Linked DNA regions of Homo sapiens. The protein of the gene in region 3 purifies or fractionates together with the protein of the main gene of each other region. This does not show direct contact. Each region holds a gene or a part of one and is shown on either strand. Other genes may lie near its edges.

Region 1 (5,275 bases), on a different chromosome or scaffold from region 3:
TTTCAAAAAACAACCAAAACAATTTTTTAAAGGACATATTCTTTATGCAAATATTTCCTCAATTTCATTAGCCTTAATTTGACTGTTTTCAATATCATAATCCTAATTAGTGTAAACTGACCAGATTCTCATTCTTGATCTTTCTAGATACAGAAATCCCTAGTAAATGTAAAAATTATGGGCAAGAGCCTATAATTTCAGGGGAAGTTGAGTGTGTAAGATCTGAAAGATCTAAAAGAAGCTAACTACTCTTTATGTAACATTACTCTCATATTATATTACAGTGATTATTATATTAAAATACACTTCAAGTTTCACTTAAGTATAGATAACACAGAAGTATTAATAGGAAAGTTGCATTACAGATAGCATGCTCTGGATCAGTCATTCCCAAATGCAAGATGTTTTTCCTGGCCTATAGCAATAAGAAAAAGTACAATGAAAGAAGTGAGTCCTTCATAAGGGTAAATGTATTAATTTTTAAAATCGGAAAGGAAATTCTTATTCTTTTAGTGCCAAAATGTCATTTTTAAAATGAAAAGATAATGAAAGTGGATAATAGTATTTCTTTTTAAAGGTCTTTATTTGGTAAAATAAAAAAATTGGTGATTTGGTCAGTCTCCGAATTTTATTTCTTTTAATTTTACTAATTTGTGAATTTTAAAAAGACTGAGAATCAATGCTTTGAAATTACTGTTATATTGTGAATAGATTATTTTCACTGGATTCTTCAGTACAATATTTGTAAATGTTGTAACTATACATTTGCTATAAACTGTATTGCATGGACTCGTTCAAGTCCTACCTTATCTGCAATTCCTTCCATATCTCACTCCTTAAATTCTCAATAAACTCACTTTTGATTAAACCTTTTTAGCACTTACAGTCCACAGTTCTACAATTAGCAATTTATTACATACATTGCTAATGTACATTAGTCTTAACTCCTTACAAAGAGTAAGTACATTAGTTTTAATTCCTTCTTACAAGCATCTTGAGGGTAGGAACTATTGCTTATTCTTATATATGGTAGACAGTGAGTACATAATAAGCATACAATGAAAATTCTGTGATTGCCAAAGAGGTGTACCATATTATTTTAATCAATTTTCCCAGCTTGTCTCCCTACCAGGAATAGAAATACCCATGTTTCTCAACAATTTTGCTAGGTGACCTGATGCACTGAATGCAACACTAAGAAAATCTTTCTTATGTGTGGGATATCTTCTTCCACCGTTTTTGGCACACCCCAGGTTGTCGCAGCGTTCTGATTTTTAACATGCATCACTCACATGTAATAACACATATCAGCTTTTCAGAAATGGGAAGCATTCATTTTAAACGAGGCCATTAGTTTACAAGGCAAGAAGCAAAATCATAAATAACTGCATGTTACAACAAACAGTTAAGGGTACAGAAAAGACTATTGTTTACTGGCTGGTATTTTCAATACTATCTAACAAATGTGGATAACATAATTGTCAACAGTGTCATTTTTAAAAACTAAGGAATTGTATAGAAATAGATGTTATTGAAGTAAGTACCTAACAAAAACATGAATTAGTATTTCCTATGTGACATTTAAGCTTACTTTTTTCTCGACACTTTTCAGTCAAGTGGAATGTTAAGGGAATCTCTCTGATTCCCCCCTACCGTGCTTTTAGTTAGGTGGTCTTCCTTTACACTCCCACAGTCTCGCTGTCATAACATTTATCCCTCTTGAGTATATTATTTGTTTGTCTCGCTTCCCTAGACTGTGAACTACTAGAGGACAGGATTGGTCTCTCATTTATCCCAAGTTAATGTCTGGTATGTACCTCAATCACCTGGCAATACTAAATAAATGAAGGATTAATATTACTACTATTACTAAATGAAGGAGTAATATTACTATTTATTACTAAATGGAGTGAAAAAATGACAGAAAGAAAAGCAAGCAGAATGAGATTAAATGCTTTTTTGGCCAAAATAGTCTCTACTATGGGACATTTAAAAACTGCTACGAATGTGGTTAACAGGTAGCTTAAATCAGTAAGTTATAATCTGTAAAGATTCGGCTGCTGTTAAGTTTAGCAAACTTTATAGAAAAAAAAAAACAGAATCAGAGAAGCTTGAGCCAAATTTGATGTACTCACAGGAACCGAAAGAAAGTAGGACCTGTTATAGAGTTGAAGGAGGGCCTGAGTAAACTAATTGGAAATAAAATATAGTAAATACAATTGTTTTAGAATATTGCAAAGTGAAAATAAAGTAAAAATCCATTGTTTTCAGGCAGTATTTCTTGATGAACGAGATATTCCCCCAATTTTTTTTCATTCTATAACTCTAATAAAATAAAAGGGACTTTTAAAAGAGATGAAAAAATAAGAAACCTAATTTATTGTATTAGATATTAAAATGGCTTTTATTCAAATCCCTCAAAGGTACTCTTAATATTATTAATAACAATATTATTACCACACTCTTAATTATAACATCCTTTTCCATATAAAAATATAGGTAAAGCATTTATATGAAGATTAGATCAACTGAAATTTGCAGTTGAGCTAGTCATTTTCTTAACAATTATACTATGTACTAAGTACATAGAACTTACAAAACATTTAAAACACTGAATCAAGTCCTGAGTCTCACCTCAAAATACTGAAAAATAAAACAGGTCCAATAGTAAATATCTAACAAGTTTGGACTTACTTTATAAATAAAAATATCTAAGTAGTATATGCAATTCATATGCATAGTTATTTGATTTCTAGAATCAGAGAGCATCAGCTGAAAGGAACTAGACTGTCTACCAAAAGAGGCAGCTGAGGCCCAAAGTACATCTATGAGCAAAGAGGCTCCTATTTCAAAATCTTAAAATCAAATATGTGAAGGAATTGACTGCAACCCCAATTAAACATATTAACATTTTTGTGGAAATGTAAGGTTAATACATAAATAAGCTATAGGAACATGCTCGTTTTAATAATAAAATAAAATTACCTGTTGAACAAAAACATTGTTGAGGTGACTGGCCAGTCTCCGGGCAAAAAGCTCTCGCAAATCACTGAATCGCTGCTGTTGCTGTTTGACTGCCAGAAGCAAGTCATGGCCTGACACAGAACGACATTTTGTGACCAGTTTAATGGGTAAAAAGATTTCCTTGATGTTTAATGGAACATTAAACGTATCTAACGTTTTGAAGAACCCAAAAGTTTTATGGGTGTATTCATTTACATGATAAAAGTTAAGCAGGAGAAAAATGGGATTTCACAGTAGTTCTCAAAGTGTGGTCTTGCCTCACCATCGCCTGGGAACTGTTAGAAATGTGGATTCTAAAATCTCAGCCCAGATCTGCTGAATCTGGGACTGGGGCCAGGCAATCTATGTTTTTAACAAGACCTCTAGGGATTCTGACGGACACTCAAGTTTTGAAATAATTGCTCTCGTCTAACCAAAGCACCTACTTTCTGCTGGGTTCTGTGGATAGTACTAAATAAAGATCATGGTGTTGACTATAGTCATTGAGGACAATTAGAAGGAGGAACTGAAGTAAAAAAGTTCCTAGTATCAATAGAAATAAGTTGGGAAATCAGTGAAACTTGAATAGCTAATAATGTAACCCTTAAACCACTTGTCTCATGTATTTCTTGTCAAAACCTTTATAACAAGTTACAGGCTTAGTCTCACATTCTTGGTCACATTTTTGTCATTTCTAATGAACATACCTGGTCGAAGAGCTACATTCATGCACTGCAGAAGGGCATCAGCAGCATTGGTGCAGGCCTCAATGCCTCTGGAAGAAGCAAGATCTCCTTCCTGAAGGGCCTTTATATGACCTTTGGCCAAGTCCATGTGGTTCTAGAATATATGCAAACACACCATTTGCATGTGTAATTTTGGGAAATTTACAGGCAAGATGCTATTCAGTCCTATCATTAGGTCTTTGGAATTATTTTAAATCCTGTTCTCACAAGGAAATTAAAAAATGTTTACAAATGGGTTTTATATATCATCACTAGTTTTTTTTTGTTGGTAATTTATGATCATACTTACCACAAGGAACTCTATCTCAGATAGGAGTTTTACATTATTAGTGTTACTAAGATGAATTAGGTGGTTGCTTTCAGAGATCTGATCCATTTGTTCTTTTACACTTTGGAGCATTTCCTCATAACTGCTCAGTTTCAATTCAATCTGATCTACCTCCTTTAGAGCCTCATCTAGCAATTTCATCAGGATGTTGACTTGTTTTTCAGATGCCATGATTGACTGGATGTTAGCCTACAAAGTTAAAGACCAAAACAAACAAACAAACAAACAAACAAACAAAAAACATACTTGTTATTTAGATGTGTAAAAGAATAAAGGTGAAATGTTGCTAAATTTCCTTGAAAGTAGCATAACAAAAATTGATATATACCTACACATCTACTTCAGTTTATCACTTTATGTTCTTCCATGTTTTACACAGTATTTCATGCAGGTACACTTGCCTCTAAATCAATGTTAGGGACCATGCCTTAGGATTTTATATTTCCACAGACTGCACAAGTAAGGTTCCAGAATGCACAAGTAAGGTGCCAGAAAGTATCACTGGTAATGGCACATTCTCATTTCTATACATTTAGGAGGCATTAGGCCATGTTATCTCTAACATTTCCTCCAATTCTACCAGCTAGAAATTTTCTTAACACCTATGTGAAACCCTAAATAAAAGCATAATCACCTATGTGATATCTTAGTTGAGAAAGCAGCAGTGGTATACCAGACTCTGAAGGATATATGAAACTAATTTATAACTGTAGTATGATGGGAACTAGTAACAGGATGTAGAAGAGCATACGGCCGATAGCTCCTTCTATCATCTTTTTTCTTTTCTCTTTCAACTGTTTTTTTTTTCTTCCCCAGGCAAAGCAGTAACAAACCACCATCCCCTTATCACTATTTTCTAAATGATTCTGACTATTGATTCTGAATTCCCTGAAATAAGGAAACTGCCAAATCCAAAATTAAACTGCAAAGCAATATGCTGACTTGGAACATATATACCATATTAATTAGAACAAAAAATATAAATCACTAAGCCATATTAAGAAGGCAAGTAACATGGTACGATGAAAAACCTGGACCAGAAATTTAAAGGATATCATTGTACAGCTGACGCTGTGGTTTCACACGTTATTTACATACTATCCACAGTAAATAAAATGTAAGTGCAATACGACTTTAAGAGTCAGAAGGGTTCAGAAGCCACTGACATCTCTTAAGTAACAGAGCTGGGGTTTGAATC
Region 2 (5,883 bases), on a different chromosome or scaffold from region 3:
CAGGACCATGCAACTAACTGGATATGAAGGAAAGAAAAAAGCTGTAAAAGATAAGCAAGGACTTCAAGCCTTTTTGACTAGAAGACCACTGCTGTCATTCTTTCAGGTGTTCATTTGGCAAATATGTATTAAGCATACAGTGGGTACAGAAATGAATAGTAAGTACTTGTATTTAAAAGCTCACAATCCGGTAGGAGATAAATGTAATTTCTAACCAGGTAAAATGTAAAAGGGCCTTAAGAGAGGTACACATGCTATCAGTGGCAGAGTGAAAAACCACTGGAAGGAGGCAGAAAGACTAGTTGCACTGCAGGGGTGACTGCAAAATAATATATGCTCAGTAAACAGACGCACTCCGCATTTTCCACATCATCCAAGTGTGAAACACAAAGATCTCCTGTTTAATTCTATTCTGATGATTGGGCTTGGAAAGGGTTGCCAATTTCAGCATTAAAAATACAGCATAGGCCAGGCGCAGTGGTTCACACCTGTAATCCCAGCACTTTGGGAGGCCGGGGCAAGCGGATCACCTGAGGTCAAGAGTTTGAGACCAGCGTGGCCAATATGGTGAAACCCCATCTCTACTAAAAATACAAAAATTAGCCAGGCGTGAGGCCGGGCACGGTGGCTCATGCCTGTAATCCCAGCACTTTGGGAGGCCGAGGTGGGTGGATCACGAGGTCAGGAGATCAAGACCATCCTGGCTAACAAGCGGATCACCTGAGGTCAAGAGTTTGAGACCAGCGTGGCCAATATGGTGAAACCCCATCTCTACTAAAAATACAAAAATTAGCCAGGCGTGAGGCCGGGCACGGTGGCTCATGCCTGTAATCCCAGCACTTTGGGAGGCCGAGGTGGGTGGATCACGAGGTCAGGAGATCAAGACCATCCTGGCTAACACGGTGAAACCCCGTCTCTACTAAACACACACACACACACACACACACACACACACACACACACACACACAAATTAGCCTGTTGTGGAGGCAGGCGCCTGTAATCCCAGCTACTCGGGAGGCTGAGGCAGGAGAATCGCTTGAACCTGGGAAGCAGAGGTTGCAGTGAGCAGAGATCGTGCCACTGTGTTCCAGCCTGGGGGACACAGCAAGACTTGGTCTCAAAAAACAAACAAACAAACAAACAAAAACAATACAGCATATGCAGAGTCTGCTGGGGGAAAGATGGGGCCGAACTGGGCATCAGAGGAAAGTGGAATTTCGGTGTTGATAGATGTTGCTGCTAGAATCCAACAAGGAAGGCCAGAGACTGACTTCATAGAACCATAAAGCAGGAGGCAACATTTCATACATATGCACACTTCCCGGTTTGTTATAGTTCCCAAAAGATTTGAAAAATGAAGGTGGGTGGAGGGAGGAAGAGGCAATGAAATATAGTATGTTCCTGAATAAAAGGCATCATCTTAGCAAGTTGAAGTTAGAGAATCTCTTGGTACATATTTATGCAGTCTCAACCGTCCTCCCGTCTCTGAGATGGTAAATTACTACTGACACTTATTCAGGTCTGAACTGAGAATCTAGTTTGTGGATTAACTGGACCCTTTGCTTTTTCTTCTTCCATCTGCCTTTTAGGCAATTCATTACTTATTCGAATTTCCACCAGAAGGTAGGAGTCAAGAGAACGAATATTGGATATTAATAACCGGTTACTGTTAAAGAAGGGTTGCTGTATGGCGACTGACAACAAGAGGTATAGCACTTTTATTTTGTTGCGTTGTTTTACCACTAATTGCTGTGGTTTAACTAATATAGGGAAATGGCCTCAGAATGGATCATTATTTTACCCAATTTTAGAAGGTGCCCTTAAACAAGATGGCAACCTCAGGCGCGTTAACAAGGTGCTGAAGCAGCAGCGATGTAACCTGTTGCTTGGACACCAGGCTGGAGTGGGAGGACTCACCGCTAAGGGTTCAGAACCGATTTTCAACCAGTCACGCCCTTCTCAAAGATGGCCGACCTCACTTCCCTTACGCAACATGGACGTTTTCAGTCACTTCCTGTGATTTTGAGGTTATTCTGATCCAGGACTACTTGCATGACCAAAGCCAAGATGGCAGGTACGTCCTTTTAGAATTTAAGGTTAGTGAAGCCATCTATTTCCCCGACCCCCTTCAGTGAAAATGGTCTTTCGCATCTGGCTCTTCTTTTTGGAGGCGTGCTTGCCAGCAGTCAAAATGGCTCCATTCCGGAATAGATTTAATAGGAAGTGAAGCTGTGACGGCGAGGCGTTGCCCGGCCTATCTTTGCTAGGCGTTCTCAGAATTAGTTCTTTCTGCCCACACTAGACATGGCGCTTGCCAGCGTGTTGGAGAGACCGCTACCGGTGAACCAGCGCGGGTTTTTCGGACTTGGGGGTCGTGCAGATCTGCTGGATCTAGGTCCAGGGAGTCTCAGTGATGGTCTGAGCCTGGCCGCGCCAGGCTGGGGTGTCCCAGAAGAGCCAGGAATCGAAATGCTTCATGGAACAACCACCCTGGCCTTCAAGGTGTGGAGCCAGCCCCCTTGCCAGGCTGAGTACTGAACGCCCGCGACTTGCCTGGCCTCCCAGCCTGACCGGAGTTTGCGGTGGCCTTGGCCACCAACCCAGGCGGAGGCTGGGTCCTCTCGTTCGGACCGCAGCAGTTTTGCTGTCTCATTGGCCCAGGAGGCCCCTGTCTTTGCTCTGGTTGGAAAGGGTGGCGGTGGGGCCGGGGGTAAGTCGGGGGAGGAAGGTGAGGCCTCTTGGGTTGATTCCTAGGCGACCCCAGGTTGCTGCTGTTCAGGATCTTCTAGCTGGGAAAGGCCGCAACAACAATGAATCTTGGCCGAGGGAAGGCTATTGTAAACGTTTACCAAAGTTTTGGAAACTGGGCGGCCCCTCAAGGCAGGGGTAACTGAAACTGGCATGAAGGGGAAGCGTGGTGAGGGTAAGCATTGTACTAAGAATCAGACATTTGGGGTTCCTTGCCCAGCTCTGCAATAACTAGCTCTAGATTGAGAAATCATTTGATTTCATTGAACCTGTTTCCTCATCTATAAAATGATTTGTTTTTTTTTTTTTTTTGAAACAGGGCTTTTCGCTGTCGCTCAGGCTGGAGTGCAGTGGCTCCAGCGCCTCAGCCTCCAGAGTAGCTGACACTATAGGCACACACCACCACGACAGGCTAAGTTTTTTTACTTTTTGTAGAGATGGATCTCCCTGTGTTGCCCAGGCTGGTCTCCAGCACCTGGCCTCAAGCGGTCCTCCCGCCTTGGTCTCCCAAAATGCCTGGGTTACAGGAGTGAGCCACCACGCCCATCCTATAAAATGAATTTAATATGGGTTATATCCATGTCAAGGGATTGATGTGAAGCTCGGGTGACATTAATATATGGTGAAGTATAGAAGTATACTGTGAAGTATAAAAGGACGGAGAAAGAGATGTGCTGGGTTTGGATTGATGCAAAAAGAAGTATGTAGGAGTGTTTTTGTGGTCTTATGTGGCCTGTTTTGTGTTTTCCTCTGATCTTAACAGTTCCGCCATGGAGTCATAGTTGCAGCTGACTCCAGGGCTACAGCGGGTGCTTACATTGCCTCCCAGACGGTGAAGAAGGTGATAGAGATCAACCCATACCTGCTAGGCACCATGGCTGGGGGCGCAGCGGATTGCAGCTTCTGGGAACGGCTGTTGGCTCGGCAATGTCGAATCTATGAGCTTCGAAATAAGGAACGCATCTCTGTAGCAGCTGCCTCCAAACTGCTTGCCAACATGGTGTATCAGTACAAAGGCATGGGGCTGTCCATGGGCACCATGATCTGTGGCTGGGATAAGAGAGGCCCTGGTGAGTTAAGCTGCAACCACATGATCCTTGGGCTGACACTACAGTGAGGAGGGGTTGGATGGACAGATGAATTAAAGGGCTTGGTGTCAATGCTGAAGAAGTGTAATTAGGTCCTTAGCCCTTCCTTCTCTCTTTTTTTTTTTCCTGTTTTTTTAGACTGTGTCTCATTCTGTCGCTCAGGCTGGAGTGCAGTGGCATGATCTCAGCTCACTGCAGCCTCCGCCCCCAGGTTCAGGAATTCAAGACCAGCCTGGCCAACATGGCGAAACCCCATCTCTACTAAAAATACAAAAATTAGCCCGGCGTGGTGGCGGGCGCCTGTAATACCAGCTGCTCAGGAGGCTGAGGCATGAGAATTGCTTGAACCCAGGAGGTGGATGTTGCAGTGAGCAGAGATCGCGCCACTGCACTCCAGCCTGGGCGACAGAGTGAGACTCTGTCTCAAAAAAAAGAATTTAAGAATTCGTTGAAGGCCGGGCGTGGTGGCTCACTCCTGTAATCCCAGCACTTTGGGAGGCTGAGACAGTGGATCACGAGGTCAGGAGATCGAGACCATCCTGGCTAACAAGGTGAAACCCCGTCTCTACCAAAAATACAAAAAATTAGCCAGGCGTGGTGGCAGGCGCCTGTAGTCCCAGCTACTCAGGAGGCTGAGGCAGGAGAATAGTGTGAACCCAGGAGGCGGAGCTTGCAGTGAGTCGAGATGGTGCCACTGCACTCCAGCCTGGGCAACAGAGCGAGACTCTGTCTCAAAAAAAAAAACAAAAAAAAGAATTCGTTGAATCCCACATGTGGCAGTAGTGCTATTTCAAGTGTTCATTGACCATGTGTGGCTTGTGGCTACTGTATTGGACTCTAATATATGGTTGTCCCTCAAAAGTTAGTCATTTCTCTTCTGTTTTTTTCTTTTTTTCTTTTTTTGAGATGCAAAGTTTCACTCCGATCGTCCAGTCTGGCGTGTAATGGCATTGTTTCAGCTCACTACAACCTCTGCCTCCTGGGTTCAAGTGATTCTCCTGCCGCAGTCTCCCAAGTACCTGGGATTACAAGCGCCCACCAGCATGCCCAGCTAATTTTATATTTTTAGTAGAGATGGGGTTTCACCATGTTGGCCAGGCTGGTCTCGAAATCCTGACCTCAGGTGATTCACCCGCCTCAGCCTCCCAAAGTGCCAGGATTAAAGGCGTGAGCCGCTGCACCCGGCCTCTTCTCTTTTTTTCTTTAGAGAGTCTTTGGCCTAGAAGGGGCCTTTTGGGCTCCTCTCTTTTTTGAGGGGGTGGGGATGGAGTCTCGCTCTGTCGCCCCGACTGGAGTGCAGCGGCGGGATCTCAGCTCACTGCAATCTCTGCCTCCCAGGTTCAAGTGATTCTCCTGCCTCAACCTTCCATGTAGCTGAGACTACAGGCATATGCCACCATGCGCGTCTAATTTTTGTATTTTTAGTAGAGACAGGGTTTCACCATGTTGGCCAGGCTGGTCTTGAACTCCTGACCTCAGGTGATCTGCCCACCTCAGCCTGCCAAAGTGTTGAGATTACAGGAGTGAGCCATTGCGCCTAGTCCTGGGCTCATTTCTTTTATTTCTTTGCTGGTTATAATCACCCTTACAATCATGCTAGGTCCGGTTCTATCATCTCTGAAAATAAGTTCCTTAGCCTGTTTTTCCTTTCCAGCATTTAAGAAACTTGCCAGACAGTTCAACTTTGTATTTAATGTCATTTCCTCATCAGCCAGTTTTGAATTGCCCGTTTAGTAAAGTTGGAGTATAGCTAGTCACCTTCTAATTTTCCCTTCCATATGCTTAAAAATAATTATTCTTTCCTCCTTTTGATTTTGCTTCATTCATTTACCTGCTTACTAAATACCTAGTTATCTTATAGAACAATTATAGGGTACCTACCACTTTTTCACTTGCTTTCAAACGAGAATAGAAAGGGCTGTAGGGAGTATCCACTTACTACCCAATGGAGGATGAAAGGAAATTAAAAACCGGATGTGAGAGAGGAGCTCACTTTGTTACTTTGGAAATTGAGATGCTTTTCTCTGAAAGGTGGGAAAAGACAG
Region 3 (5,275 bases):
ACCTTATGTATTTATTTTGAATACACACATTATAATACATCATTTCAGTGTACCCTGGAAACAGTACTTACTTTGTACCTTTCACTACTACTATGTATTATTTTGGCATGAAAATGTACTATCCTAGTGTTGTAGCACTTCACCTATAATGTTTTCCCAGGAACCTATTGATTTGCCCCAAATTATATATGTTACCATATGTTTATATTTAATAATCTTTTTCAACTAATAATGACTAATAATAATCTGCATAAGTGCTTCCACAGGGCAAGCATTTACTGAATATGTGTCTGTAGTAATTTATCTTTAAAATGTCTCCATTTAAGTATTTTTGTTCAAATAAAAAAAATTTATCTCTACTTTTTGATTTACCACAGTGATTCCATCCCACTCCTTTTTTTTTTTTTTTATTAAAGAGATTGTCTAGACAGATTTTTTTTTTTTTATCAGATACCACAATTGAGCACGTAAGAATTCTCAGGAGGGAGGAATATCTTAAAGATTTCAACCTGGAATTCTCTGAGAAAAGGAAAAAGAAAAATCATATGATTAATCTTGTTTTCATTTGTTTTTAAGCCAGACTTTTTAGCTTCAAATTAATACTGATTAGATAACAAAATCATATTTTATTATTATAATAATAGTTGTACCTTTTGCTATTCCATTTCAGGACTCAGACGTCTACTAAGTAAACAGGAAACTGGGACTGAATTCAGTCAAGAACTTAGACAGCTTGTTGGCCTTTTAAGCCCAATGGTCTATCAGGAAGTAGAAGAGCAGGTATTAAGTTACAAAAAAAAAAAATTGCATGATATTTGCTGACTATATTAAACCTTAGTTTTCCTTAAATGTTCCTCACTTTCTTTCTCTTAAGATTTCAAGCAAAATACCCCCAAAACAGAAATATCTTTAAATTTTTTACTCAGGAGGTTGAGGCAGGAGGATTGCTTGAGTCCAGGAATTGGAGACTGCCCTATGATCACACCCATGAGTAGCCACTGCACCCCAGCCTGGTCAAAATAGCAAAACCCCATCTTTAAAATATAATGTTACAAAATTGTATCTCTCCGCCATTCAATCTGCTGGAAAACATAATTTCAATCTCCCATTTACATCTGTTTATAAATACTGCCACATCAGTTTCATTCATCATTTCTCATGAAAGCCCCATCTCTGATGTTTATCTTCTTTTATCTATAAGCTATTTAAACTTTTAAAACTGTTTTTCCAAAAAAAATCTCTAATTGTAGCAAACTGTATTTATGGTTACCTATGGCTACCCTTCTTGTTCTTTGAGATACAACAATAATGCCTTTTCCTTTGTGTAAGAAATGGTATTAATAAAATTATTTAGAAATTTGAGGCAGCAAGTTATTGATTATTTCATCATACTTCCTCTAGCATACTCAAAATGATGGCTCTAAATAGCCCATTCAACAGGAAGAGGCATATTGCTTTCTGATTTCCAGATAAAGACTTAAATATGGAAAACATCTAAAATGACTAAAGATATTTTTTAATTTAAAAGGAAAAGGGGACATTGTATATCCAAAATCCAAAACCAAAAAGACAATAAATTTAAAAATACAAGCAGAAACCATGAAAATAAGTCCAGTAAGGCAGGAGAATGGGTTGGGGGAGGCTGGAAGGAAGAGTGCAGAAGAAGGGAATTCCTTTTTTCTGTATATATGAACCATCGTGAGTTTAGATTAATCTCAAAACTATGCATATGCTCAAATTCATATTGATTAGGTAACAAAATCATAAAACTATATTTTATTATTAATAGTTGTACCCTTTGCCATTCCATTTGAGGACTCAGAAGTCTATTAAGTAAACAGGAGACTGGGACAGAATTCAGTCAAGAACTCAGACAGCTCACTGACCTTTTAAGCCCAATGGTCTATCAGGAGAATAGCATATCAAAAGCTTACAGAACTAAACAGAGATTCGAGCAACCATCCACAATGGTCAACAGAGCTTATAGTTTGAACCTAACTAGGTTGATTGCCTATTAAGTAAAAACATTAACATGTTAGCTCAAAAAAGATTATGAAAGGTCAGGCGGACTATGAAATCTTTGAAAAGGAAATGGAAGTGAGATTATTCTGGGAGAATTTGGAGCTAACTAGACTATATCTTGAGTATGTTCTAGAAATTGCCTTACCAAGCCTAACATACCTCCTTTGGGAGGTAAGGTTTAATATTCTTACCCATCTTGTTAGAGCTAGAGATTAATATTTGCCCTAACCTGATACTTTAAGAGGTAAACTTTTTTTTTTTTTTAAAGACCTTCCTAGAGATATCTCTAAATTATTTTCGGCATTTCAGAAACTACATCAAGCAGCATGCTTGATTCAAGCCTATTGGAAGGGTTTTCAGACAAGAAAGAGATTAAAGAAGCTTCCATCTGCTGTGATTGCTTTGCAGAGGAGTTTCAGGTAAAAAAATTTGGTGAGGGGATTGATGATCATAGAATCTTACTAGAGTACAGTTGAATTGAAATTTAGGTGATTTTTTTTTAATTTCCTAGTATGTTTCTTGTTATCTTTTCATTTTTTTTCCATACGTTTCTGGGTACCAACACTCCAGTAACCAGATGCACTTTCAAAGCAAAGGATGTAAGACAGGAATCTGATGTGTCAAATATGCAATCCTATCCACTTAATAAGATATTTGGGGAGGGGCCAAGCCTACAAAGGGAGCCAATGATAGTTATATTATTAAACCCTCTAAACCAACAGTTATCATAATTTCGTGTGTATAATTATAACAATAACATGTATGCGTATAAGAGTTTAAGTCTGTTAACCTGATTTTCCTGAATAAATATGGCATGGATGGATATCTTCATTGAATTATGATATAGTTCGGCATTTATTTCAAGTAGACTGAAAAGGAAATACTGAAGACATAGCCCACTTTCTGCAATGACTTAACCAATCCAGATCCTCCAAGGTCACAGAACAAGAAAAAATAACTTAGCTTCTAGGTAATTTATGGTAAAGAAGATCTGTTTCAGAGGTGACTTTTTCATGCAGCCTAACTTAAAGCCAAGCTTTAGTTTGCTAAAATGAAACTGGCATTTTACAGAAGTTAATTCTTTAAAGAAAACTGAAACTATTCTTTTAATAACTGCAGATGCATTTCTCAGTTATAAAAACATTTAAAAATAGCTCTGGGGTTCAAAATACTATGTAGTCACAGAGTTGAAGACATTGAAATCACTCTAGCTAACTGTGTCTCTTAGTGGGTATCCTATTAATTGATGAACGTTTTCTTCAGGGAAGAATTAAAGATGGATTTTAAATATTATTGGGCATGAATATTGTTGGTAGCAAAGAAAAGAATTAATTTTTAAATATATATCAAATGCCTAGTATATGATATATGTACTAGGCATTTAACAGATTCGAGTTTGTATCTCACTTGAGCAGCTTACTGGTTGAGTGAACTTGGACAATCCCCCACCTCTCTCAGCCTCAAACTTCCAATCTATAAAATGAGAATAATAGTTTATACACTTGTATGATCAAGATAATGTAAAATTTGAGATAATACAAAGTTTTTAGCATATTATCTGGCACTTAAAAAATGATAGAAGGAAAAATGCATATGGCACATTTTCTGTCCTTGAAAATTTACAAATCTAGGTAAACAAATAGATGCATTAAATAGGTAGTACTAATGAGAAGCAAGTATTATCCATCTATTATTACTCAAAGTTTATTGCCTATCTTACAAGCTGTTTTTTTTTTAAAAGCATTTCTGTGGTTAGATAAATTTGGGAAATATTGAGTACTTTTTGAGTCACAGTGTATATTTTTCTACCCAAAGCATCTGAGGTGCTCTTGGTATTGCCTCTGTGGTGAATTCAGATAGAGTAGGTATTACTTATGGATTCCACCTGCTATCATCCTTAGTTACCTGTCATCTTAAATTTAAGGGTACCCTTATACATGGATTCAGAGCATTAATGTTTAGTCCCACAAGAGTTCCCAAATTTGCTCATATACTCTCTCTTTCAATATTAAAATCTCTATTTAAAAGTAGCCCAGGATTACAGATTTTTTTCTACTTAGAAGTGTATCTATGGAATCTAATATTCCATTATTTTAAAATAGAAATTCCATTGCTTTCTTTATGTAACCAGAAGAGTTATAAATACTTCCATTAAAAAGATAAGCTGTGAAGCAAAAATTATTTAAGTCTCACATTTTGTGTTTGTTGCCTTTCCAGTATTTTTGCATTTGAGGTTCCAGAATATACTGAAATGCGGTTCTAACCTGTTGGATTCTATTTAATTTTTTAATTTTCAGTTTTCTCCAGTTCAGCACCTTCGCTCTTCTATTAGTTGTAACAGTTCATGCAAATGTCTCTTGCTTCCTTTGTAGCTTGGTTTTTTTTCAAAGGTTATTTCTGTCTTTTTGTGCTCAGGACTTATCTCAGTAATTTCCCCTTCCCATGGTTTTGGGAGAGAGACTGCCCACTGGTCACACTTATGGGTCCAGGTTGATTAGTGTTCTTTAGATTCAGCAAGAGGCATTCTTTTATAGTCACGCCCTTGCTAATGCACTTTCATAGTGGTTTCTTTTTTATTTAGTCATTTCTCGTATTCAGAAACTTTGTCTCTTAAGTACTCTTATTCAGCAAGGTTTTCTGAAGCGGCTAACAGCTGCTCTAGTTATCTTAGAGAAACCTCACAATTTACCTACCTCTATCATAGTGCTGATTTTTAAGTGTTTTAATTACATTTGTTGATTTCATCTTGAAACTGAGCTTCTTAAATGCAGATAGCATCTTTTTTCTCTCTCTCCCTCTGAGGCACAGTGTCTTGGCAGCAGAAAATTTGGTCAACTCCCACTTTAATGGTAAAAATTCAGATTGATTAAATGTAAATCATGGAATTTACTTATTTCAGAATATGACATCTGATCAGTCATTTCATCTTCAGAAGTGTAGTACAGATGCCAGGTGGTCCAGTGCCTACTAATTCTTACAAAGAAACCAGTTGGAAGAATAATTGTTTGATTTTTGAGTGATTAGAGAAACTCTGAACAAAATAACTCGATGTTATTTAATAATAAATGGGGGAATTACATTCAAAATCACTTCAGTTCCTAATAAATGTTTTCAGATATGAAAGTAAAACATATGAATCCAATAAGCACACCTGTTTACAATTTAGTCCCTATTTAAATCACCAAATCTCACTTTTTTTTTTTTTTTTTTTTTTGAGACGGAGTCTTGCTCTGTGGCCCAGGCGGGAGTGCAG
Region 4 (4,352 bases), on a different chromosome or scaffold from region 3:
TGCCTGTAATCCCAGCTACTAGGGAGGCTGAGGCAGGAGAATCGCTTGAACCCGGGAGGGGGAAGTTGTAGTGAGCCAAGATCATGCTACTGCACTCCAGCCTGGGCAACAGAGCCAAGACTCTGTCTCAAAACAAACAAACAAACAAACAAAAAAACGCAGGAAAAGAGTGTGTGATGGCTGAAACTTGCAATTTCTCACTCTCAACGAGCCCTGGCCCCAACTAGGTTATTTGGGCTCCCTCCCTAGGTCTCAGGGACCTCTGTTCAAAGTCCTAGCAATCTGGGCCAGGTACAATGGCTCACGCCTAAAATTCCAGCACTTTAGGAGACCAAGGCGGGCAGATCACTTGAGGCCAGGAGTTTGAGACTGGCCTGGCCAACATGGTGAAACCCTGTCTCTACTAAAAGTACAAAAATTAGCCGGGCATGGTGGTGCACCCCTGTAATCCCAGCTACTCAGGAGGCTGAAGCACAAGAATCTTTTGAACCTGGGAGGCAGAGGTTGCAATGAGCTGAGATGGCGCCACGGCACTCCAGCCTGGGCGACAGAGCAAGACCCTGTCTCAAACAACAAAAAACAAATAAAACAAACAAGGTCCTAGCAACCCTACTAACCTGTTATGAAGACTGATACAGGGGCATCACCTGCCCCAATTTTCTGACTCAGGTCAGCCTTATATTCCTACTCTAATCTCACCCCTATCCCCGTCCCACACCCACTATTCTTAAAACCTCCATGGTCCTCCGGGGGCAGCTGTAGACACATTAAGCCCAGGGCTATGGGGCCACTGGAACCTTCTCCAGTGGGTCTGAAAACATCAGCATTCCAGGAGTTGATGAGCCCCTACCTGGGCACCACTCCCTCTTGGGCCTGAGAAGGCCGGGGGGAACCTGCAAGGAATATGTGGAATTCTATATGGTGCCTCTGATACTGCGGTAATGTCAGGGAGAGGTTTGTTCAACTGGTCAGGGCCCTGAAACCCCGATCACTTTCTCATCTCTGCATCTTGAAGGCTAGCAGAGAGGAGGAACCCTGAGCTCTCTAGGAGGTGGGTAGGTGGTGGCAGTACAGACTCCTAGATGTCTAAACGGAGTTGCAGAGAGAAGGCTTTCTCGGTAGACCCTGGAAGGGACTTTTACGGTAGAACTTTCATTTTACAAGCAGGGATAGAGGCCTAGATGGGGACAGAGACGTGTCCAAGGTAAAACAATGGACGGAGGCAGGGCAGGGAGAGGCCAGGTCCTAGACTCGGCCTCAGCACCCCTCCCACACACACATCGACACAGAAGCTGGTCCAGATTTATAATTTAATGGCTGTGCAGATCCCAGTCCCTCATTTCTGTCGCTCACGTGCCCACTGGTCTGGGGTCAGGGTTTTCTGTTCAAAGGCATGGATGTGCGGGAGCTCTTCTGCTAGGCACGCGTTCACCAGCCTGGGGCGAGAGATGGGGTTAGGAAAAGGCCAGCGGTGATCGCACACCCCGAGGCTAGGGTGACCCAAGAGACTGGTGTCCCCAAGGTTGTAGTCCCCAGGCCGTGGGAACACGTACTTGGAGAGAGGGTCTACATCGAAATACTCGAAGCAGGGGTCACGAAGGCGGGATCCTCAAGGTCCCTGAGCCACGCCAGGGGGAGTGCGGGAGTCAGGTTGCAGGGGTAGGGGGAGTGGCTGGGGTTGTGGTACAGGAGCTAGGCAAGGTGCTCCCAGGGCCTTACCTGTGTCTCTGAAGCAGCGGTTTCCCCTCGAACTTGGCCGACACCACCAGGACTCGGAAGCTACAGGAGCAACGGTTGAGGGTCGTGTCCTCCACCTCCTACCGAGCGGAAGAATATGAATGGTGCCGAACCCGCCCCCCGAGCTCTTTTCCCCTTGTCCGGCGGCTCAACTCACCACATGCTCCGCCTCCAGGTCCCGCTGCAGCTTCTCGCGGAGGTATTCGGCGCTGAGTTCCATGGCGGCAGTCCAGCTGGAACGGCAGCCCAGCAGGGACACAACCCCAGCTCGGGCGCCGGCCACGCTACCTTGCTGCCTTACAGGAGCCACTTCCGCTGGAAAACTCACTTCCGCCCTTACTAAGGCGTACGTCAACGCAGTACTTCCGCCCTCAAGCAGCCGGGCTTTCCAGCGGTCCAGGCTTTTCGCGCTTGCCATGTGTCAGCCAATCAGAGCCTGAGGAAGGTGGGACTCGGGCGGAGCCGATGCTGAATGGTACGCGCTCGCCGACTGGACAGCAGTCTGGCTTCCGCGGTCGGACTTCTACACCCGCCTCCAGACAGGAGAGGGGCACGTACCGGCGCTACGGCTTCCTGCAGGCTGCCTCCGGATAGTCCCCGAGAGCTTGTTCCGAAGCAAGCACCCTGCAGCCCTAGCGATCCAGCCCTCCCCTGGACCCTAGGTCACGGCAATCAACCCCCTGCTGTGGTTCCCGAACCCCAAGGCCCGATGGGTCCCGCGGGGGTCGCGGCGAGGCCAGGGCGCTTTTTCGGCGTCTACCTGCTCTACTGCCTGAACCCCCGGTACCGGGGCCGCGTCTACGTGGGGTTCACTGTCAACACTGCTCGTCGGGTCCAGCAGCACAATGGGGGCCGCAAAAAAGGCGGGGCCTGGCGGACCAGCGGGCGAGGGCCCTGGTGAGAGGGGGAGGCCTTCTGTGCCGGGAGGAAGGCGTCCCAGAGGAGGCGGACCCCGCGGGGCACAGGCCTGTTGAGAAGGACCGGCCAGGACTGTGACAGAGGCGGGGCGTCTGTGGTGGGGACGGGGCCTGTCGCAGGGGAGGAGCGTGACGGGGAGGCGGTGCCCGGGGCATCTCCGCGGCGGAACTCAGGGAAGGAGCTAGCTGGGGCGGGGGTGATGATCCAGGCTGGGTTCCAGCATAGGGCTCTTGGTGGGCACGCTGGGGTCGGGTGGAATGCAGGAGAGAGAGGAGGTGGGACAGGTGGGTACCTGGGCTGGAGGCAGGGCCTGAGGTGGGCAGGTGCAGAGGGCTGCACTTCTCGGCTGAAGCCGGGAATGAGGACCCCGCTCTCGGGTGGGATTGGAGGGGACCCGCGGCTGAGGCGCTGGGCTGCGACAGGGACATCACGGTTCTCCTCCTCAGGGAGATGGTGCTCGTCGTGCACGGCTTCCCGTCCTCCGTGGCCGCCCTTCGGGTAAGGAAGGAGACCGGGCAGCGGCGGCCGGGTGAGGGCTTGGGTTCCGCCCCTCGCTCCGAGCCGCCCTGATGCCCCTGTACGCCGCCCGCAGTTTGAGTGGGCTTGGCAGCACCCGCACGCCTCGCGCCGCCTGGCGCACGTGGGGCCTCGCCTGCGAGGAGAGACAGCCTTCGCTTTCCACCTGCGCGTGCTGGCGCACATGCTGCGCGCACCGCCCTGGGCTCGCCTCCCGCTCACGCTGCGCTGGGTGCGCCCAGACCTCCGCCAGGACCTCTGCCTCCCGCCGCCGCCGCACGTGCCTCTGGCCTTCGGGCCTCCACCGCCCCAGGCCCCGGCCCCAAGGCGCCGCGCAGGTCCCTTTGATGACGCGGAGCCTGAGCCAGACCAGGGGGATCCAGGGGCCTGCTGCTCCCTGTGCGCCCAGACCATCCAGGTGAGGTCCCCCCGAGGAATGGATGGCTCTAGAGTCCAGACGACTTCGGATCCAGCTCTTTCTTGAGGGAAACCCACTGACACGCTTTGGCCACCCTATCCCCATCTCTAAGATGCTGATGCTATAGGACTTACGGCCATTCCTGAGCAAAGCAGGCCCTGCTCAGGGCCTTCACCATTTCCCCTTCAAAGAAAAGGTTCTTCCCTAGGCCATCAGTACTCCGCTGCACTCCAGTGTGGTCGACAGAGCATGACCCTCTTTTTTTTTTTTTTTTTTTTGAGATGGAGTCTAGCTCTGTCGCCCAGGCTAGAGTGCAGTGGCGCGATCTCTGCTCACTGCAAGCTCCGCCTCCTGGGTTCACGCCATTCTCCTGCCTCAGCCTCCCGAGTAGCTGGGACTACAGGCGCCCGCCACCACGCCTGGTTAATTTTTTGTATTTTTAGTAGAGACGGGGTTTCACCGTGTTAGCCAGGATGGTCTCGATGTCCTAGCCTCGTGATCCGCCCGCCTCAGCCTCCCAAAGTGCTGGGATTACAGGCATGAGCCACCGCGCCCGGCCCTTTTTTTTTTTTTAGACAGAGTCTTGCTCTGTTGCGGAGGCTGGAGTGCAGTGATCTCAGCTCACTGGAAGCTCCGCCTCCTGGGTTCAAGCGATTCTCCTATCTCAACCTCCCAAGTGTGCCACCACACCTGCCGAATGTTTGTGTTTTTAGTAGGGATGGGGTTCGCCATGTTGGGCAGGCTGGTCTCAAACTCCTGACCT

The links. Proteins that work in one complex are often made in the same cells at the same time.
Region 1: the proteins of IQCB1 (region 3) and EXOC1 purify together in Homo sapiens (affinity purification with mass spectrometry; 4 studies listed by BioGRID and IntAct, with this or other methods). This does not show direct contact.
Region 2: the proteins of IQCB1 (region 3) and PSMB5 purify together in Homo sapiens (affinity purification with mass spectrometry; one large-scale study listed by BioGRID and IntAct). This does not show direct contact.
Region 4: the proteins of IQCB1 (region 3) and BOLA2 purify together in Homo sapiens (affinity purification with mass spectrometry, with the first as the bait; one large-scale study listed by BioGRID). This does not show direct contact.

The regions. Positions count from the first base shown.
Region 1 is NC_000004.12:55,869,669-55,874,943, reverse strand, and holds part of EXOC1 (exocyst complex component 1), read right to left. Parts: intron 4,267-5,275; coding exon 4,039-4,266; intron 3,844-4,038; coding exon 3,711-3,843; intron 3,096-3,710; coding exon 2,986-3,095; intron 2,190-2,985; coding exon of another isoform or gene 2,136-2,189; intron 1-2,135.
Region 2 is NC_000014.9:23,031,305-23,037,187, reverse strand, and holds the start of PSMB5 (proteasome subunit beta type-5), read left to right. Parts: upstream 1-2,287; 5' UTR 2,288-2,306; coding exon 2,307-2,504; intron 2,505-3,513; coding exon 3,514-3,820; intron 3,821-5,883. UniProt on the Homo sapiens protein: Component of the 20S core proteasome complex involved in the proteolytic degradation of most intracellular proteins. This complex plays numerous essential roles within the cell by associating with different regulatory particles.
Region 3 is NC_000003.12:121,792,623-121,797,897, reverse strand, and holds part of IQCB1 (IQ calmodulin-binding motif-containing protein 1), read left to right. Parts: intron 1-670; coding exon 671-780; intron 781-2,331; coding exon 2,332-2,441; intron 2,442-5,275. UniProt on the Homo sapiens protein: Involved in ciliogenesis. The function in an early step in cilia formation depends on its association with CEP290/NPHP6.
Region 4 is NC_000016.10:29,452,297-29,456,648, forward strand, and holds BOLA2 (bolA-like protein 2), read right to left. Parts: upstream 1,958-4,352; coding exon 1,895-1,957; exon of another isoform or gene 1,818-1,894; coding exon 1,720-1,817; intron 1,437-1,719; coding exon 1,337-1,436; 3' UTR 1,297-1,336; downstream 1-1,296. Other genes in the region: BOLA2-SMG1P6 protein, read right to left, coding at 1,720-1,779, 1,895-2,155; SLX1B (structure-specific endonuclease subunit SLX1), read left to right, coding at 2,447-2,634, 3,102-3,153, 3,248-3,589. UniProt on the Homo sapiens protein: Acts as a cytosolic iron-sulfur (Fe-S) cluster assembly factor that facilitates [2Fe-2S] cluster insertion into a subset of cytosolic proteins. Acts together with the monothiol glutaredoxin GLRX3.